Linked DNA regions of Homo sapiens: all the other regions are linked to region 2. Evidence: fine-mapped expression QTL. A gene starts in region 2. Each other region holds a variant in brackets. All regions are shown on one strand. Distances are between the middles of the regions. Region 1 overlaps UMAD1 (UBAP1-MVB12-associated (UMA) domain containing 1). Region 2 holds the start of UMAD1 (UBAP1-MVB12-associated (UMA) domain containing 1). Region 3 overlaps UMAD1 (UBAP1-MVB12-associated (UMA) domain containing 1). Region 4 overlaps LOC124901586 (a long non-coding RNA gene). Region 5 overlaps UMAD1 (UBAP1-MVB12-associated (UMA) domain containing 1). Region 6 overlaps UMAD1 (UBAP1-MVB12-associated (UMA) domain containing 1). Region 7 overlaps UMAD1 (UBAP1-MVB12-associated (UMA) domain containing 1).

Region 1 (4,387 bases), 230 kb after region 2:
AAGAGATAGATGCTGGAGTAATACTTACAGCACAGCTGAAATTCACATCATCCTAGGAGGCATTTGGTGGAACACTTTGCCCATCGTATTGTTAAACTAATTTTTAAAAACTTAATTATGAAAAATTTTCAAGCTTATACAAAGGTGGAAAGAATACTATAGTGCATTCCCACTTACCTTCATGTCTGTTTCAATAATTATCAACTCACAGACAATTTTTCACTGTCCACGGTGTTTTTCCCATGGTCTTATCCAGACTGCTGGTAGATTCATTTCCAGGGATAAATATATCTTAAACTAGAGTTGCTTTTCCATCCTTCTTCAGCCTGTCTGTAAGATCTGTCACCTTAATGATTTTCTCAGTCCTTTCTTCTTTAAGGTACAAAATATTAGCATCTTTTTTCTTCCTAAATTAAGCCAAGATATGCTACTTTAATAACTGTTATATTTTCTAATGCTGTACCCTAAAATTGTTGAAGCACTGTTCATTCAGTCAATCATTCTATCCAAAGCATGTCTGAAATGTGCAGGATCTTGGAATATAGAGCTTTAATGGTCATTGGGTTTGATTATCAGTTTCACCACTGACAAGCTGTGTAATCTGGGACAACTTCCTTAACCTCTCTGTGCCTCAGTTTCCTCTTGTCTTTAATACGGGACTAATAGGAGCACATACCCTTACAAGGCTGTTGTAAGACTTAAATGAGCAAATACATTTAAACAGCTTAGATACAGCCTGACACAGTGTTCCGTATATGCTAGTTGCTGTCTTGTCATCATTGTCATCCTAGTTGTCTTCATCATCTTCATCTTTTGTCCCTCTTCACTCATTTTACATAATAGTGGGTTGAGGCTCAAATGGGTAAAGCAACCCCCTTCAGGTCAGATGGCAGTTTTATCAGGATAACTTGAATGAGAAAGCATGTCCCAATTTTTTTACTGTACTAGATATAGTTTGATACATTCTTGTCCTCAAGGAATTACGTTCTCACAAATAACAGAGAATTGTCAAAAAAAAAAAAGAGGATTAATAAAAATATGAGGAATAAATATTGCTGCTGGAGAGTTAAGCCTTAGGCACTGCGTGTTTCAAGAGGAAGAGAGAGAACCTCAGCTGCTGGGGAGTCCTTGCCACACTCAGTCTCCCACCACATCAAGAATCTCCCCTCCGCAGTTCCATGCAGACCTCCGAAAGAGGAGGGGGCCTTCATGTCCCATCAGTAAAGTCTGCTCTACTCAGCCATAAAAAAATAAAAAATAAAAAATAAAAAAAAAAAGAAGTTGTGTGTTTAGAAAGCAAAATGCTACAGGTAATGTACAGGCATACCTCGAAGATATTTCGGGTTCAGTTCTACATCACTGCAGTAAAGTGAAAATTGCATTAAAGTGAGCCACATAAATTTTTTTGTTTCCCACTACATATAAAAGTTATGCTTACACTATATTGTCATCTATTAAGTGTGCAATAGCAGTATGTCTAAACAAATGTACATGTCTTAATTAAAAGTATACTGAGCTGTCTCAGGGAAGTCTGAGGAGAGGCAGATAGGGGAATGGCCAACTAGTTGGTGGAACAATCAGAACACACACAACATTTATCAGTTAAATTTGTCATCTTACATGGGCATGGTTCGTGGCACTGCAAAACAAATACAATAATAGCATCAAAGATCACTGATCATGCCTCACCAAAGCAGATAGAATAACGAAAAAATTTGAAATATTGTGGGAATTATAATAATGTGACATAGACACACAAAGTGAGCACATGCTGCTGGATAAATGACTCCAGTAGACTTACTTGATGCAGGGTTGCCACAAACCTTCAATTTGTAAAAAATGGAGTATCTATGAAGTACCGTAAAGCAAAGTGCAATAAAAGAATGTATGCCTATACCTCCACTTTAGTGCAGAATGTGGGATGTCAGGAATGCTTTTGTTTAAAAAAGGAGATGATTTCGCTAATGAAACTCTAGAACATTCTATACACAACCAAAAAAGAAAAGAAAGTTTGAGTGGGATGAGACTACCAGATCTAGGGAACATTTACACATGAGATTAAGAGAGAAAGCAAGAAATAAAAGGAGAGGGAAAGGTATTATTTGAACTACCAGTGAGTGTCAAAAGAGATGAATGGATTCTAAACTTCATCTAAACCCAAATGGGATCTGGCATTTCTAAAATGTTATTTATTCACTTACTTTAACCTGTGCCGAGCACTGTTCTGCTTACTTATAAATATAACTTTATTTAATCCTTGCATTTAACAATCCTATGAAATAGCTAACTGTTATCAATCTCATAATACAGCTAAGGAAACTGAGGCACGGAGAAGTTAAATATTTTGCCCAAGGCCATTTGCTTATTAATAAACAAGAGACCTGGGATTTATACCAAGCAGCGTGGTTCTGGAATCTGTGCTCCTAACCACTTTGTTCTCCTGCTCACAGGTGATCAAAGCCCCGGTGCATATGGAATCTTGAGGTTTTATGGTGCACCCAAACGTTGCTTCCCTTTCAGTTTTTCTATATAAACCAGTGTATAGAGAAGCCCTTTAAAGAGAATAGAATGGTGGTGTCATTACTCATACCTGCACTCTTGGCTGACCCGAGGAT[A/C]ATTAGCATGGTGAGTCCCAATTAGATTTCAGGAGACAGGATCTGCCCACTGCAGATGTACATCTTTATAACAAGCTTTATCATAATAGAGTATGATTACATTTGTTAGTTGCAGTCCTAAAACAGTACTCTGGTGTTATTTTCACATGAAATTATAAGACCACTCTTATAGGCATGTGCTTTTTAACTTTACTAATTCGAGGTCATCCACTAAAAAATATTTCTTGATGGCCTCTGTTTTAGGTATTGGAGATGCTTTGTGACGAGTTCCTTCTCTATAAATTCTCTATGGATTTTTTCCTTTCTTATGAGCTGTTTCTTATTAGCTTATAAATTGTCATTATTTCTCCCAACTTGAAAAACAAAAATCAAAAGAAACTTTTCTTGACTACACATCCCTTTTTAACTACTGGCCCATATATGTTTCTTCATTTACATCGTAACACCTAGAAAATACTGTCTGTTCTAATTTTCTCTCCACTTTCTCCACCAGATCTCGTCCAGCTGCAGATTCAAATTATATCCCCCTGCCTACTAACAGCTCCACCTGATGTCCGCTAGGCACTGAAACTTCCAAAACCCAACTCTTGATCTTCCCACCCATTCCTGCTCTCTGGTACTCTTTCCCATCCCTATAATTGGTGATTCCATGTGTCTCATCGCTCAGGCCAAGAGCTTTGGCTTTATCCTTAACTGTGCTCTTGTTCTCATATCCCCACCGTCCATTCCATCAGCAAATTGTGTTCCTTTTACCCTTAAAGTCTATCCAAAATCCAACCATTTTATCTCACCTTTGCTATCCCTGCTCTAATCGACTTCATAAGTAATCTGTCATTCCCAGCTATCTTCCCACTTCTTTCCCCGGCCACCCCACCTCTACTATCTGCTGTCAACCCAGCAACCAGGGTGATTATTTTAAAACATCAGTCAGAATATATCACCTTTCCAACAATATGTTCTTCAAGATTTTTTTCATCTAACATGCAACAATTTAGATGAATCTCATCCACATAATGTTGAGTAAAAGAAGCCAGAAGCAAGAGTTCATACTGTATGATTGCATTCATTTAAAATACAAAATCAGGCCGGGCACAGTGGCTCACGCCTGTAATCCCAGCACTTTGGGAGGCTGAGGAGGGTGGATCACCTGAGCTCAAGAGTTCGAGACCAGCCTAGCCAACATGGTGAAACCCTGTTTCTACTAAAAATACAAAAAGTAGCTGGACATTCCAGCCTGGGTGACAAGAGCAAAACTCTGTCTCAAAATAATACATAAATAAATTAATTAATTAAAAAACAAAACCAGGTAAAACCAATTCTGTGTTGTTAGAAATAAGGATAGTGATTGACAGGACGGGGGTTGATTGTGACTGCAAGAGAACACCAGGAGGGCTTCTGGGGGCTGGTCTTTTCTATTTCCTGATCTGGGCGCTGGTTGCTCATGTGTATTCAGTTTGTAAAAATTTAGCAAGTTACACCCTTATGAAGTATTTTGTATTTTTAGTACAGACGGGGTTTCTCCATGTTGGTCAGGCTGGTCTCGAACTCCCGACCTCAGGTGATCTGCCCACCTTAACCTCCCAAAGTGCTGGGATTACAGGCGTGAGCCACCGTGCCCGGCCCAGAAAATTATTCTTCTCCTTTAGACTTACAGTCTAAGAATTTGTCAGCATTTATAACCATTAGCATTTATAACCAAAGACACAACGTACCAGAATCTCTGGGACACAGCTAAAGCAGTGTGTAGAGGGAAATTTATAGCACTAAATGCC
Region 2 (4,319 bases):
AGACCAGCCTGAGGAACATAGGGAGATGCCATCTTTACAAAAAACAAAACAAAACAAAACAAAACAAAACAAAACAAAAATTAGCCAGGCATGGTTAAGCATGCCTGTAGTCCCAGCTACTGGGGAGGCTGACATGGGAGCAACTTGATCTTGGGAGGCTAAGGCTGCAGTGCGCCATGATGGTGCCACTGCATTCCACCCGGGGTAACAGAGTGAGACCCTGTCTCAAAACAAAAAAACAAAAACGAAACAAAAAACCTCTTGAGGAAGAAAAAAGCAACGTAAATTTTTCTTATGTGATTTTATGGTCTTTCATAAGGAATGAGAATTGTTATCCAACATTTATGGGATATGTTCAAAAATCATGACGCCCAAAAAATCATTGGTTAAAAATGTAAAAGGAAATATAATGAGAGAATAGTACAAGAATTAAATTTTACAGCCAGGGACGTTTTACCAGCTCATCCTTTTTAAATCCATTGCAAAAATTAGAAACATCGGCAACAAACCAAATCAAGATGAAGAATTAACTATAATATATAAGAGACTTATTAACACTTAAACATACGGGTTCCATCAACTCGATGGTTCCATTTTTTCCTTCTCCATCTGAAAGAATAAACATTTTTCCGGTGGGATGAATCTAAAAACGAAACATATAATTAAAATCTCACTAAAACAACAACAAAGTTTGACTAAAGATGAGTACATTGATCCTTAGTTGAGCACAAATCAACTGTTTCTTGAACAGTTTATTCATTCAGTTTATTCAACTTATTGGATCAAATTATAATCTTATGTTATCAAATCTGTTCATGGAACACACAGTTAATTTCTGAATTTCAGATAAACAAGGATTTTTTTTGTAGTGTTAAGTAGGTTCTGTATTTGCTAAATATGGCAACCCTATTCTGATAACAAATTAAAGGATGCCCACCCTAAAAGTGAAATCTGCTGGCACTCATGATTTAGACAGTACATATCCCACGGAGGGTATGTTTTAAAAAACAGGCATGATGAAGTAAAAGGAGAACTGGTTGCTAGAATATCTGGGTCCTACTCCTGGGAAGCAGCTGTAAAGAGCGCTGTCAGATTGCGTTTGAATGCCAGCTTTGCCATTTGCCGAGTTTCTGAGCATTTTAGTCAACCACCTACCACTCCTACTCAGTTTCCCTACTTGGGAAGTCAGAGCAACACTCATTTAAGGAAGAGGATGTGTGGATGAAATGAGCTACTAAATAAGTCTTTATATAATAGTTTTCTTTTCCTCAGCTTTTCAGGTCACTGATTCCAAGACTTTGGGCCTGTTTCTCGCCTGTAGAATGAGGGAACTTCACTTTAATACTGGGGTTAAATAACTCGTTACTACGGGACCCAAAGCGGACAACCAAGGCATGTTTTACAGAGAAGCGATCACAACGAGGAAACGAGGTTTGCAAAAATAAGTAATTTCAGAAGAGAAGGAAACCAGCAGATTAGTTTTGTCTGCGTCCGTCACGTCTGAGTAAACTAAGAAATCTGAAGGTAGATGTGGGAGTGGTGTTTATAATTTCCCTTACGTAAGCACGGCTAGAACGGAGGCGACGGGCACTGGAATTTAGAACTCAGCATTTGAAAACACTTTGTTTCCGTGCCATAAAAGAGCGCCAAAATGGGGCTACAACGGCTAAAGAATTTCCAAAAAGTTCCTTGTGCAAAATAAAGGAGTCGGGGGCGCAGTGATCGGAGGCTTTCCGTCCTTTTTCATCCCCCGTTATCCAGGCGGGGTCCCTCCCTCCAGCTACGGACTTGGGAGCCCATGATTGCGAACCCGCACACCTTTTCCAGCCTCCCTACGAAGCAGACAGGCTTGTCGATGAATTGAGCTAGCATGCCGGCGTTGATGCGCGACCTGGGCAAGTCCATCATGTCCACCATGATTATGGTCCAAGACTGCGGCTGGCGGGAAACCCACGGACGACTGAAACTGTGCGCCCCGCGGGTGTCTATGGGGCAGATTTCTCGGCACCAATCAGCGAAGACTAGCGCTCCAGCTTCGCCAATTAAATGCGCGGAAACCTAAATCGCAATCGCGCTGTCTCTGAAAGGGGTGGAGAAGGGGCTGGATGAGTCCGGAAGTGGAGATTGGCTGCTTAGTGACGCGCGGCGTCCCGGAAGTTGACAGATACAGGGCGAGAGGCAGTGGAGGCGGGACTTGGATAGGGGCGGAACCTGAGACTACCTTTCTGCGATCACAGGATTCCCGGCGGTGACTTGACCCCGGAAGTGGGGTGTGAAGCTCCGGTGCTGGTGCGGCGGGGGACTGCGGGGCCAGCCTCAGGTACCTCGTCTCGCGGGAGGCGCCGCAACCTTACTGTTTCCCCATTCTTCCCGCGAACAGAGTCAAAAGAGCTAGGCGGGAGTCGGCACTAGCTGCTGCCGCGGTGCTGTGGGTGCTGCGTACCAGCTGTTCACTGCTGTCTCGCCTTCCCTCTTGCCAGTTCTGCGTGGGAGGCGCGGGAGTTTTGCGGAATGATACGTGGTGTGGCGTCGGGGTTGTGATACCCGCCCCCTTGGAGATGGGCAGCGGGGTCATCAGTGATCTTGATCACTTTCTTCAGGCTTTTGCCACTTGTTGGCTGAGGGTCGATTTACTCCCTTAGCTGCGTCACTCTACTTTCTCCACTTTCTCCACCTGTAAGAAGAGAGATTGATCCGATTACTTCTAAGACGTTTTTTAGCCCAACCTGGCCACACTGCGGAGGCGCCGGTTCTTTCACCCCGCTAACCCCTCCGTGTTGGCAGCCAATAGAAGCACTTAAGGATGGGTAACGGGGAAGAACCACTGGCCAGTACTAGGGGAGACAAGCTTAAATCGTTGTTAGACCCCGAGCTAGGGTTCCCCGAGCTAGGGTTCTCCCTTCTGAGGCGTGTTTTCCCCATCTGCAAAACGAAGGGTTAGGCGGAATGATTTGCAAGGTCCCAGTTGACTCTGACTTTTGGCCATATGTTTGACTCAACAGTTTAAACCCCCTCAGCAGTCTTTCTGTCGTTGCCCTCCACACTGCGAGACTCTGGAGGGCGATCTGGAGGTCTGGAAGATAACCGATTCCTGGGAGATTTGGGGGTAGTCTCCAATCTGTCCCTGGCTCATCTTGTGACCCGAAGCCGGCGGCCTTGCCAGGAGTATTCTAGAATGAGTGCACATAAAAATACCTTCAAACGGTACGGTGGAAATTGGACAGAAGTTTTAATTGGGTATTATAACGTTGTGGAAACTGAGTCTGTGAATTGGCCCAAAGCTACAGAATTGTCATCGTTCAAATTCCCTTAAGCAAAAAAGATCCGATTTGAGACTTCACGTGGCAATTTAAGATTGGAATCTCATGTACGATAATTAAATGATAGTCTCCCTTAGTGTTTCCTTAGCACTTAATAGGTTTGTCTTAGTTTTACTCACTAACGGTACTTTAAAGGATTTCATTAAACAGATGTAGAATGTGTGTCAGTGGTGTATAAAAAAGTTGTGGTTGTATTGGTGCAAGTCAGTAAAGTCTATTTTATATTACAGCTTTAAGTCTTTTGTACTTTAGCATTGTTTTGCAAAGCAAGTTGATGTGCATTATATAGGGGAGAGTACACACATCAATGTCTTTAATAGCATTTTTTTTTGAGGCAAGATCTCTCTCTGTCACCCAGACTGGAGTGCAGTAGCATGCACATAGCTCACTGCAGCCTTTAACTCGTAGGCTTAAGCGATCCTCTCACCTCAGCCTGCCAAGTAGCTGGGACTATAAGCACATACCACCACACCCAGCTAATAAAGATTTTTTTTTTGTTGTTTGTTTTTTTTTGTTCAGATGGGGCCTCGCCATGTTGACCAGGCTTATCTCAAACTCCTGGGCTCAGGCGATCCCTCCCTCCCCCGTCTCCCTCCCAAAGTACTGGAATTACAGGTGTGAGCCTTGGTGCGTACCCTGTAATAGTGATTTTTTTTTTTTTTAAAGAGCACTCCTGTGAGTACCAGATGTTAATGTCGTTGTTTACCTGCAGTTAGAAAGACCACTTTTAAGCAAAGGCTTTCTTTTAAAACAGGGAGATGAGCAGGAAGATAATTTAAAACAGCTTTTTCGTGTATTTTTGAGTCACTTAAAATATTATAAAATACATGATGTACAGAAAAAAGTATAGCTAGCCGATTTGCATAGTTTTGAGAGAAATGAAATGAATCCATGGGGCCTGTCATTCAGCTGAAGAAATGGAACTTTACCAGTTACCAGTAAATTTTACCAGTTTGCACTTCCCCAATGAAGCCCTCCTTGCTACAGCCATAAGTAAAC
Region 3 (4,387 bases), 110 kb after region 2:
GTTGGGAAAATGATAGAGGGAAGCACTTGGGGCAAATGGGCAAAATAGAGCAATGGGTTAGCAAATGCAGAAAATGATATAGTTAATTAAACAACCTGATATGTTGAGTTGAAGGCAAAGAAAATATACAATTTTATAATTGCATTTTAGACTATTTAAAAATGCTCCTTTCTCTTATCCCCAGCCTTTTCATTAGATAAGCAGTTTTCGTGTGCTAACTTGGAACTCACATACGTTTAAAGTCTTTCATTTCACACACGTTGCTTAAATATGTGCATGTAGTTTTTGCCTTAGCTACTGGCCTAATAAAAGCCTCTTGTGAATGCTTATCACCTTGTAAAGTAGTTACCAGAGCTACAGTAAAATTGGCCTGCAAGTGAAAAGGCTTTGACTTCCCTAGAGGAAGAATAAAAAACATATGAGACAAATAGCAGCAACTGAAATTATCTGGTGCAGAATGTGGCAGAATGCCAGCCAAATGCCCTGTCCCTCAGATGTTTCACACCTTTATCTTAATTCGCTAAAAAGGCCACCTTATTTAAAGAATTTCAAACACAACTTGAGAATGCCTTATTATTGGCTTTGACACAGTTTACACATACAATCCTGTTTCTTATTGCTATCTTCTGGTATTAAGGCCCTATAGATTTAAGAGATTTTAAAAAAATGTTTATATTTCTTTTAAGTGGAGTGCATGTTTGTGTGTGTGTGTGTGTGTGTGTGTGTGTGTGTCTGTGTGTATGTGTGTGAACTGTTATTGGAAGTTATTGCCATGTTTATTTTAGGCACTTCATATATCTAATTAGAAATGATGTTTATTGTTAAGTAGGCAAAGTTGCCTTCGAGTGCATGGTGAGAAATAGTAATGAGATACTTTAGCCATTAGGCCATGAAGACTTTTACCTAAATAATAGGGAAGGAATAAATCCTAGTATTGTTTTGGAGTTGCTACAGGAGAACAGAAATTGTTTAAACGAGAGAGTTTCAAAAGGCCCCACTACAGTTAAGTATATTTAATTTAATTAGGTAATCAGTATTATTCTTGCAACTATTAATGGCACCTCATTTGTTTAACACTTGCTATATCATAGAGCATTTCATACGTGCTACTTTATTTGGTCCTTTCAGAAATCCCTAGAACAAGGCAGGGCAAATGTTTCCATCTTGGTTCATGGATGAGGAAAACCAAGACTCAAAGATATGCAGTGACTTGGTCAAGGTCACAGAGTAGTAGAGGATGGCTCTCTTTCCATTACAGTGACAGTCAGAAAGCGTCAAATCTTAGGTTATCATGACACTTAGTAATTATGAAGTATATTTTTTCCAAGAAATAATAAGCCTTTTAGGCAATTGAAACTGCCGAGAAGGCTGCCAGAGGAGTAACTCAAAACAGAACAAACATGGAGGTTTTTGGTCCTTTCATCTCTAGCATTGAGTCCACTAGGTCAGGGTTTCAGGAAATGGGAAATCTTCATTGTTACCTGCTAGGTTGCCTTATTTCTCCATTTAATGGAAAACTTAGTCTTCATTATTTTCAGTTTAACAAATAATTTTCCTTAGAGGAAAAGAAAGTTTTGCCTGTATTTTGGGGAAAATGTATAGAAATTAAATCTAAATCATTGAATTATTAGATGATGTGCCATTTCTGAGCCAAAAAAGTAGGAAAACAATGCATAATCATCTAATAAAGTATATGTTTTATGATTATATATGTTTCTTGTTTTGTTTTGTTTACAGTGGCGTGATCTCGGCTCACTGCAACCTCCGCCTCCTGGGTTCAAACGATTCTCCTGCCTCAGCCTCCTGAGTAGCTGGGACTACAGGGGCCTGCCACCACGCCCAGCTAATTTTTTTTTTTTTTGTATTTTCAGTAGAGACGGGGTTTCACCATGTTGGCCAGGATGGTCTTGATCTCTTGACATCATGATCCGCCCGCCTCGGCCTCCCA[A/G]AGTCCTGGGATTACAGGCGTGAGCCACCGTGCCCGGCCTATATGTTTTATTTTATAAAGTTATATGTTTTATTATTTACTTTTTGTTATGTAATTGTTTATGTCATAAAATTATAATATAATAATTCCTTAAACCAAATTATATTCCATAAATTATAACATATGAATTCAATATGCATTTATAAAATAAAGATTTCTAGACATATGGTAGACTAACAGTGATATTTTGAAATCTACTTCTGCCACAGAACTAGATAACCATTTCCAGATTGGAATATAAATTAATCAATGTCTCATTGTTAGAGCTGCTGTAATTTTTTGAGGGGATCAAGTGAGGAAGGACTTATTTTTGGCTTAGATTTACATTTACAGCAAGGTTATCAACATTTTCCTGTGGTGGCACATTAATATTAATAATATAATCATAATGCCGATTTACACATTTACCAAATTCCCATCTATTACCTTCATTCCTGTTAAAATACAACCTATCATGTTGTTCTTTGGGGATGAGTAGTACATTTATAGACATATAAGTATATGTGTATATTTATATATTTGTATATATAAAAATTTAAAAAATTCTTTTATTTTTAGGAGCAAAAATTTGGGGAAAATAATGTAATATTTATCAGAAGGATACTTTAGGATTTAGCTCTATCAGCCAGGCAGGGTCATCAGTAAATCTAAGAACTGCCAAACTTCTCACACTCCTAATTCCCTCTTTTATCCCTCCTTTTCTGGCTGTGCTAGAGATATCCTATTACACATGATTTTCTTTTACTCTGGGCTCTTCTTCGCCCAGATCAGTGTGATTGCTTTGCATTGATTTCTGTATTTGCTTAAAAAAAATTTCCCTTGATAATGTTTTTAAACTTTCTAGCATGAGCCTTTCCATACTTGGTATTGGTGTTTTATAATAGATTTGAGGACAGGTTTGTGGGGGATTCCATAACAAATTCAATTTATCAGTTACTTCTTTTTAATGTTAAAATAACTGCAACAATTCCACAATAAATAGAGTGAAATTTGATGTGCTAAATTAATTTAAATGGTTTTGACACATTTTCCTTGAAGGACTCTTTTCTAGGTTTTTATAATCTCACCTCAGTGAGAGTACAGTATGGTTTAATTACTTTCCAGCAGTGCACACTTTAATAGCCCGTATTCCACGTGAAAGCTATGTGTCTTCTGTGGGTTTGAACTGTTTCTGCCTAATCCAAGGAAAAATATTTGAGGAACATTAGTTAATGCCTTTTCCAGGAATGGGAGTGGGTAAGCGTTTTTTTCATGGCTTATAGAATATTTAGCAATTTTAGCTTCCAGTACTTAATTTTATAGTGTTCTCAGTACTGGTGGCAAAGGCTTCCTTCAGAAAAGTGAGAAATTATGTGAATTCCCCTCTTGGCATGCTTAGGAGGGCAAGTCATGAATCTTTACTCTCATATTTTTCTAAAATAAAACTGGGCGTTGATATTTGCTGTGATCTAATATGTAGATATGATGAAAAGATTTATAAAATAGCATATATTGAGATTTTTGTATGTTCTCATAAAAGGTGCTATAAATTGAAACATTTATTACACAGAAAACGTCTAAGATAAGAGTATTATTTTCCAGGATAGTTTATCTAAGTTCTGTAAAACTTTTAATAATGTAAGTAACTACTAATGAAAGGACGTTATGTGTCACATTTGCATTCATAAATATCCATGAAGGATCTCTTTCACCAATGTTATTCAGTCTCAGTCCAAGACAAGGTCAGACATTGATTATGTTTGACATCTTAACAAAAGTGAATAGGGAAGATAAATATTCTTAATTATACTGCTAGAATGGTGAGAAGCAGTGGTCTATAATGTAAGGAGGAATATTAGCAAAATAGAATTATGGTCAATTGCAATTATAATAACTTCTATGCATTAAGTATCTTCTACTACATATTAGCTCTTTATATATGTCTTATATAATGTAATTTTAACTAATATCTTAAGAAGTCTAGGTAGTATTTATACCCATTTGCCCAAATCTGGAAACGGAGTTTCCAAAAAATTAAATAAATTCCTTAAAACTGCCCAGCTAGAGTCCATTTCACATCTGTCAGGCTCTACTAAGCTGCTTGTCAGTCTTTGACTTCCTCATTATCAGAGATAGATATGGTATTGATAATGTACAAATTGTTTATTTGGCCCAGAAATGTGTTTGTGCTTTTAAATTTGAACTAATTGTCTTTGGCAGTTTGAAATGTACAATACTTGATGGAAAATAATAAAACTCCACTCCAATTAGAATAACTACCTGATTTCTTGATTATAGCTTCTTTAATGACGGCCCATTTTATATTATACACGGTTTCATATTTTTCTTATATTTAACAAACACATATACAACACTACTGTGTGTAAGGCACTGTTCTAAGTAGTTACAAACATGAATTCA
Region 4 (4,387 bases), 250 kb after region 2:
CATATTATTTGAGGCCCTGGATTACCCAAGCAAGAAATCTAAGAATCTATCCATTCTTCTTTCTTACCTCCATACTCAATTGATGATAAACTTTTGTTAATTATACATCTAAAAGATTTGTCTGTCAAATATGTACTCCAGACCTACTACTACTCCTGCTTCAGTCCCGGTCTTTATCATTTCACCCAACTGATCTCCCTACATCCAGTTAAGCCTCCCTCCCATCCATCCTCTACTCTAAAGCCAGATGAAATATATTAAGAAATACAGATAAATTCCTCAGGGCTTCTGTGGTGTCTCTGGAAAATTGAGGCATTTTAAGGCAAACAAGGGCCCCCCACCTGCCTCTCCAGCCTCCGCAAATGATATTGCAATTCATATATTCTGTGTTCTTGCCCTATTGAGCAATGCCCTGCGCCATTTAACATGCCATAATTTCTTTGATTATCCTTATATTCTATTTCCTTTCCCTGGAATGCCCTGACCTTCCCTTCTTCACCCAGCTAAATCCTATTACAAGACTTTTTTTTTCTGTATCATCTCCTCTAGGAGTCTTCCTTTATTTTTGCTGAGCTGCACTGATCTCTTTCCATGTTTTTGTGCTAACCTGTGCTCCCCTCTTTGAAGGTTCTTGATCCATAGTATTGTAATTGTTTGTTCCCTGTCTGATTCATAACTCTGAATTGATACCAACATATAGACTTCTGTGCTTAACATGATGCCTGACATACAGCGTGTGCTCGGTAAAATTTGTCCAGTAGGTGAATGATTGAGTCACTATTGATTCAAGGAAATACATGAGTTTATATGCCATCTATATTAGACTATTAGATGTTGCCCTTGTGTCTGTGTTGGAAGCCTTTAAGGAAACCTTTCAGATATCCCTATTAGAATATGCTACATTTCTTTAATGCTCCCAAACATATCTTGTATTCTAAATAAATTAGCTTTTTAAATTTCTACCCCTTTTGTTTGGTGACCTGTATCAGCATTAATACAATAAAGACATTTTATATTTATTATAATCTTTCAGACAGTGTTAAGTCTTCAGATTAAATTTTTGGGATGTAAGTTACTATGAATCTATGTATTAATATTATTATTTTAGACACAGGGTCTTGCTCTGTTGCTCCCAGGCTGGAGTGCAGTGGTGTGATAATAGCTCACTGCAGACTCCAAATTCCTGGGCTCAAGTGATCCTCCTACCTCAGCTTCCCCAGTGGCTGAGACTATAGGCACCTGCCACCATGCCTGGCTAATATTTTAATTTTTGTAGAGATGGGATCTCACTTTATTGCCCAGGCTGGTCATGAACTCCTGGCTTTAAGCAATCCTCCTGCTTTAGCCTCCCAAAGTACTAGGATTATAGGCATTGAGCCACCATGGCTGGCTGGATCTATGTATTATAACTTCAGTTTTATTTTTTGGTTTACTTTATTTTTTATTTTATTTTATTTTTTTGAAACGGAGTCTCACTTACTCTGTAGACCAGGCAAGAGTTCAGTGGTGCAATCTCAGCTTACTGCAACCTCTGCTTCCCAGGTTCAAGTGATTCTCCCACCTCAGCCTCCCAAAGTGCTGGGATTACAGGTGTGAGCCACCGCGCCCAGCTAATTTTTTGTGTGTGTTTTTAGCATAGACGGGCTTTCCCCAAGTTGGCCAAGGTGGTCTCAGACTCCTGACAAGTGATCCACCCACCTCGGCCTCCCAAAGTGCTGGGATTACAGGCGTGAGCCACCGTGCCTAGCCTATTTTTTTGGCTTATTTTAATATCTACCTGGGAAGACCTTTCTTCCTCCTTCTATTAAATTAACATTATTTAATGCCAATTAAGTTACATGGCTCTTTTCAAAGCATGGACTTGAATAGATTTAAATATGTACCATAAAATGGAATACCTGATTTTTTAATGGGCTGTAGCATTTTGTTTTTATGTAATCTAACCTTACTGAAGGATTTGGAAATGTTAACCCTTTTGGTGATGGCCCATATTGAAAGATAAGCTCATTTTGCTTTTGAGGAAAAATAACAATTATTTGAGAAAGGAAAACCACAATTTCGATTTTTCATGCAATCAAAACAGGTTCTAAAATATTCTTTAACTGGTCCATTTATTTGATAGCCAGTTTACTGACTGAATTTAACTTTTTAATTTCTGTAATGGATTATAATGATTTTGTGCACTATTAGTTAACTGAATTTCTAACTAGTGTGGTTACCACATTAGTTATTGCAACCTCTTCATGGGTCCCCTTCTCTCCCAAGATGCAAGTGCAGGTATGCAATACATCATTTTCAATAAATGGGGAATAGTAGCCAATCTCTTAAAACTTTGATTTAGCCAAGAAGAAGAAGGAGGAGGAGGAGGAGGAGGGGGAGGGGGAGGGGAGGGGGAGGGGGAGGAGGAGGAGGAGAAGAAACCCTGTTGTTGGTTAACAAAATTCTCATTTCTGTTACCTAAATAACAAGTTGCAAATACTTTGTAACATCAAGAAGTCATACAATTTTTCATTAGAAAGAGTTTCAGCAAAAATAGCCTCCAGAACTTAAAAACAAATTCTTTTTTTTTTCTTGAGACGGAGTCTTGCACTGGCACCCAGGCTGGAGTGCAGTGGCGCAATCTCGGCTCACTGCAAGCTCCGCCTCCCGGGTTCACGCCATGCTCCTGCCTCAGCCTCCCGAGTAGCTGGGACTACAGGCGCCCGCCACCATGGCCAG[G/C]TAAATTTTTTTTGTATTTGTAGTAGAGACGGGGGTTTCACCGTGTTAGCCAGGATGGTCTCGATTTCCTGACCTCGTGATCCGCCCGCCTCGGCCTCCCAAAGTGCTGGGATTACAGGCGTGAGCCACCGCGCCCGGCCTTTTGACTAAAATGCTAGATTAAATTAGTGTCAGGGGTCAATAGTTTCTTCTTTTCCAAATTGAAAGACTACCTGCTGAAACTCTCTATACCCACCTTAGGTTTCCCACTTGAGTAATTTTAAGCAACTCTTAAGTTTCTACGCTTGGCAATATTTAACTATCAGAGAGTGGTTGTAGGAATTAAACCCCCTTTAAGCAAACCAGTTGTCTTCTGGGTGTAGGTTATTTCCATTCAGGCTTGTTTCCATTGGGGCTTTTCTAGTATATGTAGAGATACACCTGAGGCATGATTTCTTTTTTATGTGGATTGTGATAAGGGCCTCATTTCCCAGTGAAATTTCTAACCACTCTAGGGGGCGAGACCACTGGGCTTGCTGCTTTTGTTGTGTTGAAGTACAGCAAATGTGATATCCTTCAGCCTGGGTGTGCTTTCTTATGCTTGTTAAATACAGAGTGCCAGAAAATGTACCCTAAGCATGACAAAACATAATACACAAAAGACAAGTTCTGTATCCTTAGCACTTTTCATTCTAGAGTCTAATATTACAGGTAGCAGTAACAGTATCAAGTTGACCACCAAAGACAGGTTTGATCATCATGAAATGCCAAGTAAGTGAGCCAGTTTAAATGAAAGTCAGGGAAGGAGGTGATTCAGAGGCCAAGCACTGGTTATTCAGAGCATCCAAGAAAATTTGTTGGGGCTAGTTTATTATTTTTTTAATTACCTTGCCTGGAGTGTGTGATTTATAATGCAACAAGATATAGAAAGAATGGACAAATGGACAGGGGTGGTGGTGATAAAACAGAATGCAAAGCTGCAGCACCTAGACATGAAGCCATATTCTCGTCACTAGCCTGGAAATAATGAACTATTGAGTACATGTCTCCTTTTTGGCCCCATTCTCACTATTGAACCTTATTTCCCACAGGGCCCAGTCAAGCCAACCTCTTTTACACCTACTCATTCCTTATCTCCTTTCTGGTGCCATGTCACTCCTCTGTTGATGGTATTGCTCCCTCTTTTGGTCTTATATCCTGCCTGCACACATACTAACGCTCACTGCAGCTCCGTTTTCAGCCCCCTCATGAATGTGTTCTCCAGGAATGGCCGACACATGTCATCTCAGAGCCCCTCTGGCTCTGGCATTCGGATTTTCCCACTGTTTCTTCCACTTGTTTTCTCACAATATTGTGTGATGAATCTTAACTCTCTAAGTACATTGTAAGATATGTAAGGGCAAGCTGATTATGATTTTATGTAATAAAACACATTGCACACAGCAGGTGCTCAATGAATATCTGACTTCCAAACATTATTGGAGTTGTTGGATCTCAAATGATTGACCGCCTATGTTAGTGTCAAAGGTCTTCAATGCCGAAGTAAGATGTGTTATCACCACTGTCACTAGAGGGGGATTACCTTCCCTCCTCCCCACCTCTTTCCCACTCCCTGTTTAAATGTGTTCTTTAGTATATGCTCCTTCCCCTAAAGCAGATCCTCTCCCAGAGATGCACCTCTTATAATCAA
Region 5 (4,387 bases), 80 kb after region 2:
AAATGTATGTGTGTTTTAAAGCTTCCCAAGTGATTTTGACCATCAGTTAAGTTTAGAAACCACTGATTACAATTAATTTCCTTAGAATTTGCTCATATATTTAATTCCAAAGAGGAAGAAAATTGAAATTTTAAAAAACATATGAGTATTTTTGGAGATGACATAACTTTCCTTTTATTGTGTTAAAAAAAGCTTTAAGAACTGTTTTTTTCTGCATTTTTATTAATTATCAAGATTTAGTGATGGTTTAGAGAGCTAAAAACACCTTTAGGGTGAATTCAGAAGATCTAGCAGATACAATGATGAAATATGATCAGCAAGCTTTAGGAGAGGATAACAAATGTGTGATTTTGAAATCTCTTCTATTTGAAACCAATCCAGAGTCTTGAATTTGATCCAGTATATAGTATGCTACAAATGGAAAGATTAAACTGGAGCAATATAATTAGGGTAAGCCATTGCATCTGCACTTGTATCGCAGCAACTGAATTTGAAACCAGCTGCAAAATGGTGACTAATCTCTCTGGCAAGCCCACATGAGAGTGTAGTACAATAAGCCAGCTTCAGCCTCATGAGCACATGTTTCTTCAACTTGCCTCTGAGCAGGTGATGGTGATGATGCAATCTGATTATACTTTTGAATGTATTCTAACCACAGTCAACAGTAGAGTCTCACAAGGGATTTCACAAAAGACTTCAAACCGACTGTATATTTTTCAGAGAGTTGAGCTATAGACAGCCATGGAAAGTAGTAGTTTTTTTTTTCACGTTAGTGACTACTGTACTTTGCAGTACTTTATAATCTTAAGTTTAGGAGGCTTTAGTTTTCATATGTGAACTGAAGATGAGAAGAATAATGTGGAAAGAAAGTACTTGTACTTGGAGCTTTTATTCTGAATTGTTCACAACAACTTACACTGATCAATTAAAATAATTAAATTGTCTAGACTATTTAATTCTGTACAAACAAGAGATGGTAAATCAGTGTACTGTGTTTAAGTGGTACACTAACCTTTCCATATTCAGAGAAGTACCTCCCTGGGTCTTGAACATTAAAGGTGTTTAATAAGTACTCAGTTTGACTTGGACTTGAGCCTTTATTTTTGAAGGGAATAAAGTTTCTTCTTCCAGTGTACCTCAGAGGGACTTGGTAAGCATGAATAAAGCCATCTGTTTGAAAATGTATGTCATTTTTGGAAAAGTGCTACAGAACCTAAAATACAGTCACAAGTATTATTTCAAATGTATAGTTCAGAAGTAGAATACTTAGAAATTGCTTGTTAATCTTAATTGTAAATAGCTAAAAAAAATATAGCTTGCAATAAAGGACACAAGAGCATTAAAATATAAAAGTCACAAACTATACATCTCTGAGAATAAAGGGGGAAATGGGATGTAAAAACCCTAGGCTGGTGGCACTCACAGTTGGTATACAGCAGAATGACTTTGGCTGCTTGTCAGAAGCGAATAACCCTGGGCCTCTTCCCCATCACTTCTGATTTTATAGGTTTGGAGTGTGTCCCAGGCATCTGTGTTTTTAATCATTTCCCCCCCTAACTTACTCTCCCCATCTAAACTTGAGAAACACCCAGACTACTGTAGTATTATGGTACTATAGACTACTGAGTATTAGTACAGTACTATAGTGCTGACTAGTAAGCTTCCTAATTGCCAAACAAAAGAAAAATTTTCACTGTCATCAAAAGAAATAAACTTTCTTCATGGTAATTATAAAAAGACTTTTTGAGAAAAAAAAGCATCTTCAATAGTGATTTTGTAGAAGAAGCCAATTTGTTTTTTTGTGTATTTTTATTTAAACATTTTTATTAAAACAAGGGGCATTTTACTGAAGAATTAAGAGCCTTCAGTGAAGGCTAAGTGCAGGTGTGCTGCCTTCTAGTAATCCAGACTAGGTGGTTAGTATGAGTTATGGGTTGAATTCTGTCCCCCCAAAAAGGTATATTTAAGACTTCACCCCCAGTACCTATGAATGTGACCTTATTTTGAAATA[T/G]AATCTGTTTGCAGATGGAATCAAGTTAAGATGAGGTCATACTCATTGGAGTGGGCCCTCCTCCTTCACTGACTGATGTCCTTATAAGAAGAGGGAAATTTGGACACAGGGAGACACAGAGGAGAAATGGCCATGTGAGAGAGGCAGAGATCGAAATGATGCCACCACAAGCCAAGGGACACCAAGGATTGCAAGAAACCACCAGAGCTAGGAAGAGGCAAGGAAGGATTCTGCCCTAGAGACTTCAGAGAGAGCTTAGCCCTACTGACAACTTGATTGACGATTTCTAGTCTCCAGAAATGTGACAGAATAAATTTCTGTTGTGTTAAGCCACCACGTTTGTACCATTTTGCTATGGCAGCTTTAGGAAACTAATACAGTATGTGAATCTCTTTTTCTGTCATTTGGATTTTTGACAAGTTTCTTTTCTCACATATTCCATATGTGTGCAGAGGTTCATGAGCTCTGGACCTGTCATTGTGGTCAAATTTGAATTCTACTTTAAATGTTAAGGCACCTGCGTGAAAACCACACTACTGCTGCATAATTGTGAGCCGTAGGGGATACTGCCATTAGGAGCCATTTTTCCTTAAAAGGAAGCTCATGCATTTGAATAAGTAGTAAATGGTGATGGCAGAGTTATGTTTCATAAAATATGGAGGAGACTTTTGTCATCAGCAGGAACTGTCACTTTTATGATCTTCTACTGGAATGAAAACTCACTTCCACCCCAGGAAAGATCTCTGCAGAGGCAGTGAATCAATCTCTGTGCTGCCTCTTCCTCCTCCTTGATCTTTTTTGTGATTGTCCATGAGGATTTTGCTACCTGCCCTCTCAGGGATTTTACTGAACTCCCCATCTGTGATGGTTAATACTGAGTGTCAACTTGATTGGATTGAAGGATGCAAAGTATTGATCCTGGGTGTGTCTGTGTGGGTGTTTTCAAAGGAGATTAATATTTGAGTCAGTGGGTTGGGAAAGGCAGACCCACCCTTAATCTGGATGGGCACTATCTAATCAGCTGCCCGCTTGGCTGGGATATAAAGCAGGCAGGAAAACGTGAAAAGGCTAGACTGGCTTAGCCTCCTAGCCTACATCTTTTCCCATGCTGGATGCTTCCTGTCCTTGAACATTGGACTGTAAGTTCTTCGGCTTTGGGACTTGGACTGGCTTCCTTGCTCCTCAGCCTGCAGACGGCCTATTGTGGGTCTTGTGATCATGTGAGTTTAATACTCCTTAATAAACTCTCTCTCTCTCTCTATATATATATATGTATATATATGTATATCTATATATCTATATAGATATATAGATATATACTATTAGTTCTGTCCCTCCAGTGAACCCTGACTAATATAGATTTTGGTACGAGGAGTGGTTCTAGAGGAACAGAATATTAAGGATGGAGTTCCTTCGTTGGTTTTGGGGATTCTGGAGTTGGCTGCTTAATATGATTAGACCCAATAATGCGAAGGACTCTACTTCTAATGGTATAGAGAACACTGATAGTCCTTGGCATGAACTGTTTAGACAGTTATGCAAAATAAATGCATTTGACACTCCTGATTTACCGCCCATGTGAGACAAGGGGTTTAGTGACTCTGTACATAATACCTTAGGCTGTATGTGGAGAACTAAGGAATGTAATGAAGTTGGTTGGTTGCTCCTAAGTTCACTGGACAAAGTGATGAAGGAAAATGATGAATTCAGGGATTCTGACTCCTGGCTACAGAAGCATATACTGAGCCTTAAATCTCCTAAGACTGCCCTCAGTGAGAGTCTTACCTCCTGTAGAGAAAGAGCTGAAATTGTGGCAAAACAGACACAAGCTCTTATCATGTGGGTGGCTGACCTGTAATGGAAGGTGCATGCACAGCCTCACCAGGTGTCTACTGTTAAAGTGAAGGCATTGATTGGAAAAGAATGGGACCCTGCAACTTGGAATGGGGACGTGTGGGAGGACCCTGATGAAGCTGGGGACACTGAGCTTGTAAACCCTGATCAATCTTTTTTGCCAGAAGAAACAGCTTCTCCATCCCCAGTATTGGCAACATTCCCTCTCCAACCGATGCTGCCATCAGCCTTTCCACCTTTGTCTGAGGAGATAAACCCTGCACTGCCTGAGGCAACAGTGATGGCCTCCCCTGAGCAGTTGCCAGGCAAGATAATGTTGATTCTCCTCAGGAGCCACTGCCAACATCCCTGTTTGCTTCTAGAGCTATAACTAGACTAAAGTCCTGGTGGGCCCCTAGAGGCAAGGTTCAGAGTGTGACCCATGAGGAGGTGTGCTACACTTGAGAAGAACTGCTTAAATTTTTCAGTTTACATAAGCAGAAATCTGGAGAACAGGCGTGGGAATTGATATTAAGGGTGTGG
Region 6 (4,387 bases), 140 kb after region 2:
TAGGGTCTCATTTAATCCTTGTAAGAGACAGGCTGGTTGCACCCATCTTGTCTAAGTTTGTAAAATGAAACTAGGTCAGATCAATTACAGATAGTTGTAACTTCCTCAGAATAGTCTGTAAGCCAGGGCTGTTGGTTATTAAAATACATTTTTTCTCTTATCAAAATCAAAGGAATTAATTATTTCTCATGACTGTAGAATTGGAATATGACAACTTGAGAATCCTATCTTTTGTAGAATAGAATAGAAGTTGTTTTTTTTTTTTTTTCTAAAAGAGAAATTCAGATGCTGCACGGTTTGTGTCTTTGGGTGTTTGCTGAGCTACGAGGCTGGGAAGTGAGAATCAGAATGGACAATCAGGACACTGTATTCAGATTTCACTTATAAAATGGGTTTGGAAATGAGGATGAAGGGCACTAGCCAAAATAATCTCAAAGGCTGCTTCCAGGTCTTAACTACCAAGATTTGTAGCTTAAAAACGAACTATTGGGAATTATAGAGGTAAACTGATGTGCTTTCATTAGAGAGGCGTAAAACTGGTTCTAAGTCCTTAAAAGAAAGTAGAAACAAAGCACCAAAGCCAGAAACAATTACACCAGCAGAATACTTAAAAACTAACAACAAAAAACTGTTTTCATAGGCACCCTGTTATACGCGGTAATGCAGTTTGTTTTGTACAATGTTATAAAATGATCAGTATACTGTACTTCTGGTTAAGCAAAATAAGACCAAAGACTGACACGGTATGCTGTCTACTCTAATTCAGTACATTCACCAAAAGGAGATGAAATTAAAGATGAAGAAGAAATTAAAGAATTAAGGAAGAAATTAAAGATGATAAATGGATCCAGTTTGCCTATGGCAAACTGATAGTATGCCATTCTGAAGGTGGATATTGCTTATGAAGAAAATTTTGAGTGAATTGTTTCCTTTTATAATTGTATTAGAAGAAGTGTGGATCTTGACTGTAGACAGACTTTAGTTTAAATATGGCTCTGCTATTTAGGAGTTTTGTGACACTGGGAACTTTTTAAACTCTCTTTTGTTATTTGCTTCACTTATTAAATCAGCAAAATCATTCCTACTTAATAAAGTTATTGGAAAGAGCTTATTATAAGGAGTTTGTCCCCTTTCATGAAATTTTCAAGGAAATTGTGATTTCCATGACTTAAAATTTTCTACTTAAAATCTCTGTTTTTTTTTTTTTTTTGAGACAGAGTCTTGCTCTGTCACCCAGGCTGGAGTGCAGTGGTGCTACCTTGGCTCACTGCAAGCTCCGCCTCCCGGGTTCACGCCCTTCTCCTGCCTCAGCCTCCCGAGTAGCTGGGGCTACAGGCACCTGCCACCATGCCCGGCTAATTTTTTGTATTTTTTTTTTTTTTAAGTAGAGATGAGGTTTCACTGTGTTAGCCAGGATGGTCTCGATCTTCTGACCTCGTGATCCGCCCTCCTCGGCGTCCCAGAGTGCTGGGATTACAGGCGTGAGCCACCGTGCCCGGCCTACTTAAAATCTTTTGAGGAAAAGTGCTATATCAGAAAATAAACAAGACCAACCCAGTTACATATTACCATATCATCTGAATATGTTTTACATTAGCTTCTGCCCTTCCTTCTTTTTTTTTTTTTTTTTTTTTTTGAGACGGAGTCTTGCTGTGTCGCCCAGGCTGGAGTGCAGTGGCGCGATCTCGGCTCGCTGCAGGCTCCGCCCCCTGGGGTTCACGCCATTCTCCTGCCTCAGCCTCCCGAGTAGCTGGGACTACAGGCGCCCGCCACCTCGCCCGGCTAATTTTTTGTATTTTTAGTAGAGACGGGGTTTCACC[G/A]TGTCCTTCCTTCTTAGAAAGGTTCCCTAATTGTCTGAACTGTGTTGGAGATTTCGTGGCATGTGTAGTATTTGTGGAGAACTTTTCCTGTATGGTCATTTCCAAGTGTCTAAAGAATCTGGTATCAGTCCTTCAGATTTTAGCGGGTTAAGAGAAAAAGACACCAATAAATCAAGTAGGCATAGAATTTTGTATAAGAAGTGAATCTGGGTATGGTAAAAAGTTGTGATAGAATGAAAACTTTCTGAACAGTGGTTTGGGAGAAATGCAGTAAGACTTTTAAGAAGTCAATCATTCATTTACTCATTGAATATTTCTTCAATATTGATTGTGTGTTCAGTGGAAAGAGGTGACATGGAATGGGGAAGAATGTTCAAGACACACAGAGTAGCACACCTGAACGGAAGCAGATTTGAGGATCTGAAAGTTGTTTTATGATTGGAGTGTAGAGTTGGAACCGAAGGGATGAAAAGGGATGAGAGAGTTAGTCAGGGGACCGATCATCCTGGACTTACAAGCCATGAAAAGGAATTTGACCTTTATCCTAAGCACAATAGGGGCCATAAAATAATTGTGGGATGGGGCAAAGGCCAGGTCTGTGTTAAGAAAGAGTAGGAGAATGGATTGAAGGAAGGAGAACAAGTAGAGGAAGGGAGATTGATTGCGTGGCCGCTTGTGGAAATCACAGAAATCATGGTAGCCTAAACTTGAGTAGAGTCAGTGGCTTTAGAAAGCTGAACGTGGAGGCCAGCATACAAAAGAGCCAGCTAGCTGACTGACATGATGTGGGGAGTGAGGGAGGAAGAGGAAGCAGGGCAATTGGTGATGCTTTTTCTTCCTTGACACAAAGAGTACCTAGGAGGAGAAGGTGAAAGGGGTAAAGGATTAGTTCCATTTTAGTTGGTGGGTTAAAGGAACTTGTGAGATGTATCTATCAATATATTTATCTGTGTACCTATCTGTATATCATATTCATGTATTCTAATCATCCTAACTACTCCTCTCATTTATTTTTTATTTTGAAATAATTTCAAACTTAAAAGGTCACAAAAACAGTACAAAGTGCTTTTTGTTTTTTTGGAATCTTTTGAGAGTAAATTGACAATATGATGTCTCATTACTTTCCAATACCTGAGTGTGCATTTCATAAAAGCAAGGGCATCTCCTACATTTACGTTTTGTCCCAGTGATGTCCTTTACAGCAAAAGGATCCAGTCTAGAATCACATGTTGCATTTACTCGGGATGTCTCTTTAATTTCCCTCCATCTTGAATGGTTCCTCAGTGTTTCCATGACCTTCAATATCTAGACATTTTTGAAAATCACAAGCTAATTATTTTGTAAAATATCCCTCAATTTGAGTTTGTCTGACATGTTTTGCAATTAGATGCAGGTTATGATTCAGGAATTTTTGCTAGGAATATCACAATAATTATGTGTTCTTTTCATTGCAGTCTATCAGGTGGTGCACAGCTCCTGTTCGTTACATTACTGAAAATGTCAACCATCATCATTTACTAATTTTGCTATGAGATGGGGAGGTAGATGCGTAGTGTACAGATCAGCTGATGGTTTACAGAAGAGTAAACATTCAGAATTCCCTCCCACCCCCCGTAAGCCTTGTTCAGAGAAATATTTTTTACATAATAACTGTAGTCTTTACTGTTATTATAATTTGGATTATTGCCCACTGAATTTATTATCAGTTTAGTGCAGAAGAGAAATACTTTGCTCTTGCCTTAGATTGAAAGGCTCTCCCTGTTGCCACTGTGCTCTGGTTTCCAGATGCCTTGCTCTCACTGGGATTGATGTGCTTTCTCACAGAGTGAAGAGAGAACCTGACAGCCATAGGAGGAGGAAGGTTTGCCTCACTTTAAGTCCGGATGTGGTTAAAGCATGGGAGTGGGAGAAGAGAAGGGATTTGACTGAGACAAGTTGATTTGAGTGAAGCCGCTACTCTTAGACAACTTTGCGTAAAACAGCTGGTTAGTTAATATGTTTCTCTTTTATTCCATGCTAGTCCTCCAAGCCTTAAAACAACTTATTAGAGATTAGAATTTTTAAAATCTGTTTTGCAATAAGGCACGTGTCCAGTTGAATTCTAATTTCACTAAACCTGCCCCCTAGAAAACTGCTGAACTTATTTGAAAACACTGAGTCATGATGATATAAATATATGATGGGGATTTAATGAAGTAGGTCTAATTTCAAGAATATCTAATTTATGAAACCAAGCAGTACTGTGGAATTTGTTGGTAATTAGAAATACAGGTTTAAAGTATATAAACCATATATGATTTTCATAACTTTAAAGGAGTAAATGTTTTTACTCTTTAACCAGTCTTGATATTAGTGATTCCTTCTTTACAAACTGAAATGACTCCAGATTTTTTGAAACAGTACTGTTGTTTTTAGAGGAATTAAAAAATATATTGCAAGTTTGCTGCCATGTGTTTCTAGTATAGTACTGCTTTGAAAATATAGGTGTTTAAAATTAATCAAATACATATTAGCAACCTTTAAAATACAGCATTGAATACAATATGATAAATAAAATTACTTTATCA
Region 7 (4,387 bases), 240 kb after region 2:
ACCCTGAGATGGAAAATAAGGCAGGCCAGACTCTGGAGAACAGCTCATTAATGGCCGAGCTCCTGAGCGATGTGCCGTTCACCCTGGCCCCGCATGTGCTGGCAGTACAGGGCACCATCACTGACCTTCCCGACCACTTACTCTCCTATGATGGCAGCGAAAACTTATCACGGTTTTGGTATGATTTCACTCTTGAAAATTCAGTGCTCTGTGATTCATAACCTTTATGTCTGTTTGCACCTTAACAGCTTTAAAATATGTTCGCCTATTTTATCTAACCTGTTTGATGTTCTTTGCCGTTTCACTGTTTAAGGTCCTCAGCAAGGATCATAAAGCAAAGAAAATAGCATTATGTTCACTACTCTATTTTTAAGAAAAAGGTACATTTGTATACAAATTGAACTTAAGTTCTACTTCCTTTCTCCCATATAATAAATATACAAATTAGGCTATGAAGGTTTTAGGAAAGGACTCGATTCCTTCAGATGGTCTCTCAAAATATAACACCTCAAATTTATCTTAGAAGAACTGTGAAAAAGAATTGTGGCATTTTTCAGTCACTACAGCTCCGAAGTCTGAGCAAGAAGTGGGTGTGAAGTCTCCTCTCTGGTTTGTAGGAAGTTGAATTGGTGTTATTCCTGCATTTTTTTCTTCCACAGTGTTTATGAATGAATTCAGAAAAAAAGTTGCCAGTTAGCTTAATTTCTTCAGATGCATTGATGTGGAAATTTAAAACTTGTCCTAAACAGCAGTGCTAGTTTGCTGATACAAGGATGCTAGACCTGCTCTGCGTGCTCTTTCTGGAGTGGCCCATTTCGGTTTTCTGAAACCCATGGCAGCCCTTTCCATCGTGAATAATCGTTGTGTTCCCACCTTTGTTCTCTGCCTTTTTGCTACTTCAGTGTGCTCTCTGACCAGCTTTCCAAAGAACTTTCCCTGCTTCTGCCTCGGTTGCCATTTGCTCTCCTTACCACATATGTTCCCAGTTTATGAAGAGATCCACATTTCCTTTCAACCCCTCTGCCTCCTGAAGAAAAACATCTCATGATGATACATATTATTGCTGATAACACCCTTATTTAGAAATTTGTTGGCCACAATAGAGATGGAAATGTTTTACTGCTGGAAAAACTGAAATCAACTCATTTCCAATTAGAGTATAGGCAGAACACCTAGATATGACTTTTAGTTCTTGAATATCCATTACTTACTTTAATGAAAACAGAACTGCCATTGGTCAATAAACTGTAAAGGGAAGAGGTAAATTGTGATAGAGAATTTTCTATGTCATGGGAAATTGAAATCACATTTATTTTGATTACCAGCAATATGATTTGTTAACTCTGTGCCAAGTTTTAAGTATATTTTTTCACAAAGATAGAGTGCCATAGTGAAACTAAACACTGTGCATAAAGGTACATGAATTATTCCAGTTTTAAAGTATTATGCATGTTTGTTTAATAAATGTGGCATGGTTTTAATACAAATGCTATGTTATTTAAAAGTTAGAGGAACATTTCTATTGACAAAAATATGCTTCATTTACATATAATGTTACCATATGGTGTTAATGATTAAATTAGATCTTTACATAGTTCTTACAAAGCATCAGTCTAGGAAATATGACTTATTACTGATGCAAACGTGAACATTTTGTAGTAGTTTTGTAAAAGAACATCCTTTTCAAATATCTGTGTTAATGTACCCTTGAAATTAAATGCAAGCACATAGTCAGTTTGTCTAATTTTGTGTGAAATTTTGTCGAAAATACCTAAACATTTCATCTATATTTGTGCCTACCATGTTATAAATGTTCATAAGTACCTTCATGTGTCTATAAAAAATGTTATATTTAAATAAATGTGAATTAAAATAAAATTTTTGATTATTTTCAGATCCAGAAAAATGGGTTTG[A/T]TTGCATTATTTATATCTGAATGCAAGTTGTTAATTCTTTAGGAGCCAAAAAGTTTAAGTATATAGTTTGTATAGTGCTGGGAAAAATATACGATTTCCTCTTACATGTAAGTTTTAAGGAATAACATTAAAAATGGTAAGATCCCTAGTCCTGGCTTAACAGGACTGGAGGGATTTGAGAGAGATGACATGAGCATTTCTAGATTGATACCATCATCACAACATTTAGTAAGGGCCAATGTTAATGATCTTCTTCTTTAAACAAAAATATTGTGAAAATTACCATTTAATTTTTTATTCTGTATATAAATTAATATTTCTATGAAACATTAGAAATCAATACGTCAACTTCATTTTACCCAAGATAAAATTGAAGCCTAGAAAGACTAAATGACTTAAATCACTTAGTGATAAATAAATGCCTACTTTAATAGTGTTAGTAATTATAATATATGATAACAAAGCTGTATGATATGGTGGGAGAGAGTTCAGGCAATTGAGGCAGCCAGACAGAGTTTGTAATGGCTCCCTCCTTTATAAGCTGTGGGGCTTTCAATCAGTCCCCTAACTTCTGGTGCCCTCAGTTCTCTCAATTGTGAAACACTAATTGTTCATAACTTGTAGCGTTGTGTTAAGTTATAGGTGGTGTATGTCAAATGCCTGGCAGCCTAAAGCCTTGCACATCATCGGTATTCTGGGAAAGGGATTGTTATAATTCTCGTTATTGACCATACACACACAATACTATAATGAAATGCAAAATACATATTAATTGAACTTCTTGAAGAGTAACATAAATAAAACAGCTACCTACGTTAACTGTAGATCCCCCTCCTTCCCAGTTATTTTTTTCCATATTAAATACCTTACTATGAGAAATATTCCTAAAATATGTTAGTTGACTGTTCTGCCTTAACTAAGAATTCCATAGTGAACATTTTTTTCTTTTTCTCGTTATTACAGTCTTTTTCCTAATATATGTTATTGTTGCAAAGTACTATAGATATGGAATGTGCAGGTGATTTTACTGAATCTTATTTATTTATTTGTGACAGAGTTTTGCTCTTGTCACCCAGGCTGGAATGCAATGGCATGATCTCGGCTCACTGCAACCTCCTCCTCCTGGGTTCAAGCGATTCTCTTGCCTCAGCCTCCCAAGTAGCTGCGATTACAGGTGCCTGCCACCATGCCTAATTTTTTTTTTTTTTTTTTTTAGTAGATACAGGGCTTCACCATGTTGACTAGGCTGGTCTCGAACTCCTGAGATGATCCACCCGCCTAGGCCTCCCAAATTGCTGGGATTACAGGCATGAGCCACTGTGCCCAGCCTTGAATCTTATTTTTAGCCCTAAAATATATTCAAGAACTTGCATGTATTTTTTTCCCAAGCTTTCTTTAAAGACATTTGCATTCTTTCCTAAAAACAGAATGAGAGAGGCGATTCTGACCAATTTATTATCCTGGCTAATTAAATTTTGATCAACTGAACTTTTAAAATTGTACCATTAAAATGTTAACAAAGCCACAATTTTTATTAACAATTGCAAATCAAATCCGTAATAGTTTTTTAAGGTAAATATTCATTGACGTCAACACTTATTTTTTTCTTCTCTTAAAGAAAAATGGTAAATTCAAAACAGTATGAAAAAATTCTTCTAAAATTCCCAGAGATTTCATTTCTCATAATTCTAAATGACAGATAAGGAGAAGCAAGGAAAGAATCTCACTCATGTTCTGAAACCGTAGTACATCAGACTACCTCTGTGCCTCCCATGGTAACAATTGATCAATAAGTGAACACTGCCCTCAGTAATCTAGCAAAGAATATGTTTCTTTCAGAGATTAGTGCGTTATCTTATTAATTATGTCAATAACTCACACAAAATATAAGTTTATTGGAAATGCAGTTGAAGGATGGTTTATCTTTTAAAGTTTTTGGGAAATACAGGTTTATTGACATTCTCTTTTGAGCATTTGTCCCATATTACTGAGGGCATGACCTAGGTATTATTGGGAAATCTAAAACTTTCAGAATAAGTCCAATTCCATTCATACTACAGTGGCTTGAAGGATTAAGTATTCTTATGTTTCAGGAAAAGGACTCTTTTTGCCATATGGTTTGGCAGATAGGCGTGTGTGGGAAAGAGAGAAAGAGGTATTGATTGACGCAGGGAACTCTGTTTCAGTCGATGTGACAATATGTCAGTCTTTTAAAAATTTAAATAAACTTTTTATTTTGGAATAGTTTTAGATTCACAGAAAAATTATGAAGGTACTACAGAGAGTTCCCACATACCCCTCACTTAGTTTCCCCTGTTGTTGACATGTCACGTAACTGCAGTACATTTGTCACAACCGAGGAATCAACACCGGTACATTGCAATTAACTACACTGCACACCCCGTTCAGATTTCATAGTTTTCCTCTAATGTCCTTTTTCTCCTTCAGCAGCCTACCTGGGATAGCACATTAC

Evidence for each region. PIP is the estimated chance that this variant, and not a neighbour inherited with it, causes the effect.
Region 1: its variant is fine-mapped to the expression of UMAD1 in whole blood (INTERVAL, PIP 0.94).
Region 3: its variant is fine-mapped to the expression of UMAD1 in subcutaneous fat (GTEx, PIP above 0.99).
Region 4: its variant is fine-mapped to the expression of UMAD1 in whole blood (TOPMed, PIP above 0.99).
Region 5: its variant is fine-mapped to the expression of UMAD1 in whole blood (TOPMed, PIP above 0.99).
Region 6: its variant is fine-mapped to the expression of UMAD1 in whole blood (INTERVAL, PIP 0.98).
Region 7: its variant is fine-mapped to the expression of UMAD1 in whole blood (TOPMed, PIP 0.93).

Annotation. Positions count from the first base shown.
Region 1 is chr7:7,870,837-7,875,223 of GRCh38, forward strand. All of the region lies in intron 3 of UMAD1 (UBAP1-MVB12-associated (UMA) domain containing 1), which reads left to right. It overlaps LOC124901586 (a long non-coding RNA gene), which reads right to left. Exons shown (of 4, transcript XR_007060206.1): 4 at 1-407. Among named protein-coding and RNA genes, the nearest start is that of GLCCI1-DT, 96 kb to the right of the region's middle. The variant A/C (reference allele first, on the strand shown) is at 2,616.
Region 2 is chr7:7,638,502-7,642,820 of GRCh38, forward strand. UMAD1 (UBAP1-MVB12-associated (UMA) domain containing 1) reads left to right here and starts at 2,251. Exons shown (of 4, transcript NM_001302348.2): 1 at 2,251-2,320. It overlaps RPA3 (replication protein A3), which reads right to left. Exons shown (of 8, transcript NM_002947.5): 5 at 1,819-2,674; 6 at 569-643. The coding sequence starts at 1,917. RefSeq lists enhancers at 1,432-1,481, 1,852-1,901, 2,172-2,371, 2,412-2,461, 2,542-2,711 and a silencer at 1,942-2,071.
Region 3 is chr7:7,746,257-7,750,643 of GRCh38, forward strand. All of the region lies in intron 2 of UMAD1 (UBAP1-MVB12-associated (UMA) domain containing 1), which reads left to right. Among named protein-coding and RNA genes, the nearest start is that of RPA3, 30 kb to the left of the region's middle. The variant A/G (reference allele first, on the strand shown) is at 1,949.
Region 4 is chr7:7,886,512-7,890,898 of GRCh38, forward strand. The region is part of intron 3 of LOC124901586 (a long non-coding RNA gene); the gene reads right to left. Among named protein-coding and RNA genes, the nearest start is that of GLCCI1-DT, 80 kb to the right of the region's middle. The variant G/C (reference allele first, on the strand shown) is at 2,719.
Region 5 is chr7:7,718,888-7,723,274 of GRCh38, forward strand. The region is part of intron 2 of UMAD1 (UBAP1-MVB12-associated (UMA) domain containing 1); the gene reads left to right. Among named protein-coding and RNA genes, the nearest start is that of RPA3, 2.5 kb to the left of the region's middle. The variant T/G (reference allele first, on the strand shown) is at 2,012.
Region 6 is chr7:7,783,144-7,787,530 of GRCh38, forward strand. All of the region lies in intron 2 of UMAD1 (UBAP1-MVB12-associated (UMA) domain containing 1), which reads left to right. Among named protein-coding and RNA genes, the nearest start is that of RPA3, 67 kb to the left of the region's middle. The variant G/A (reference allele first, on the strand shown) is at 1,821.
Region 7 is chr7:7,877,318-7,881,704 of GRCh38, forward strand. UMAD1 (UBAP1-MVB12-associated (UMA) domain containing 1) reads left to right here. Exons shown (of 4, transcript NM_001302348.2): 4 at 1-1,906. The coding sequence ends at 221. All of the region lies in intron 3 of LOC124901586 (a long non-coding RNA gene), which reads right to left. Among named protein-coding and RNA genes, the nearest start is that of GLCCI1-DT, 89 kb to the right of the region's middle. The variant A/T (reference allele first, on the strand shown) is at 1,915.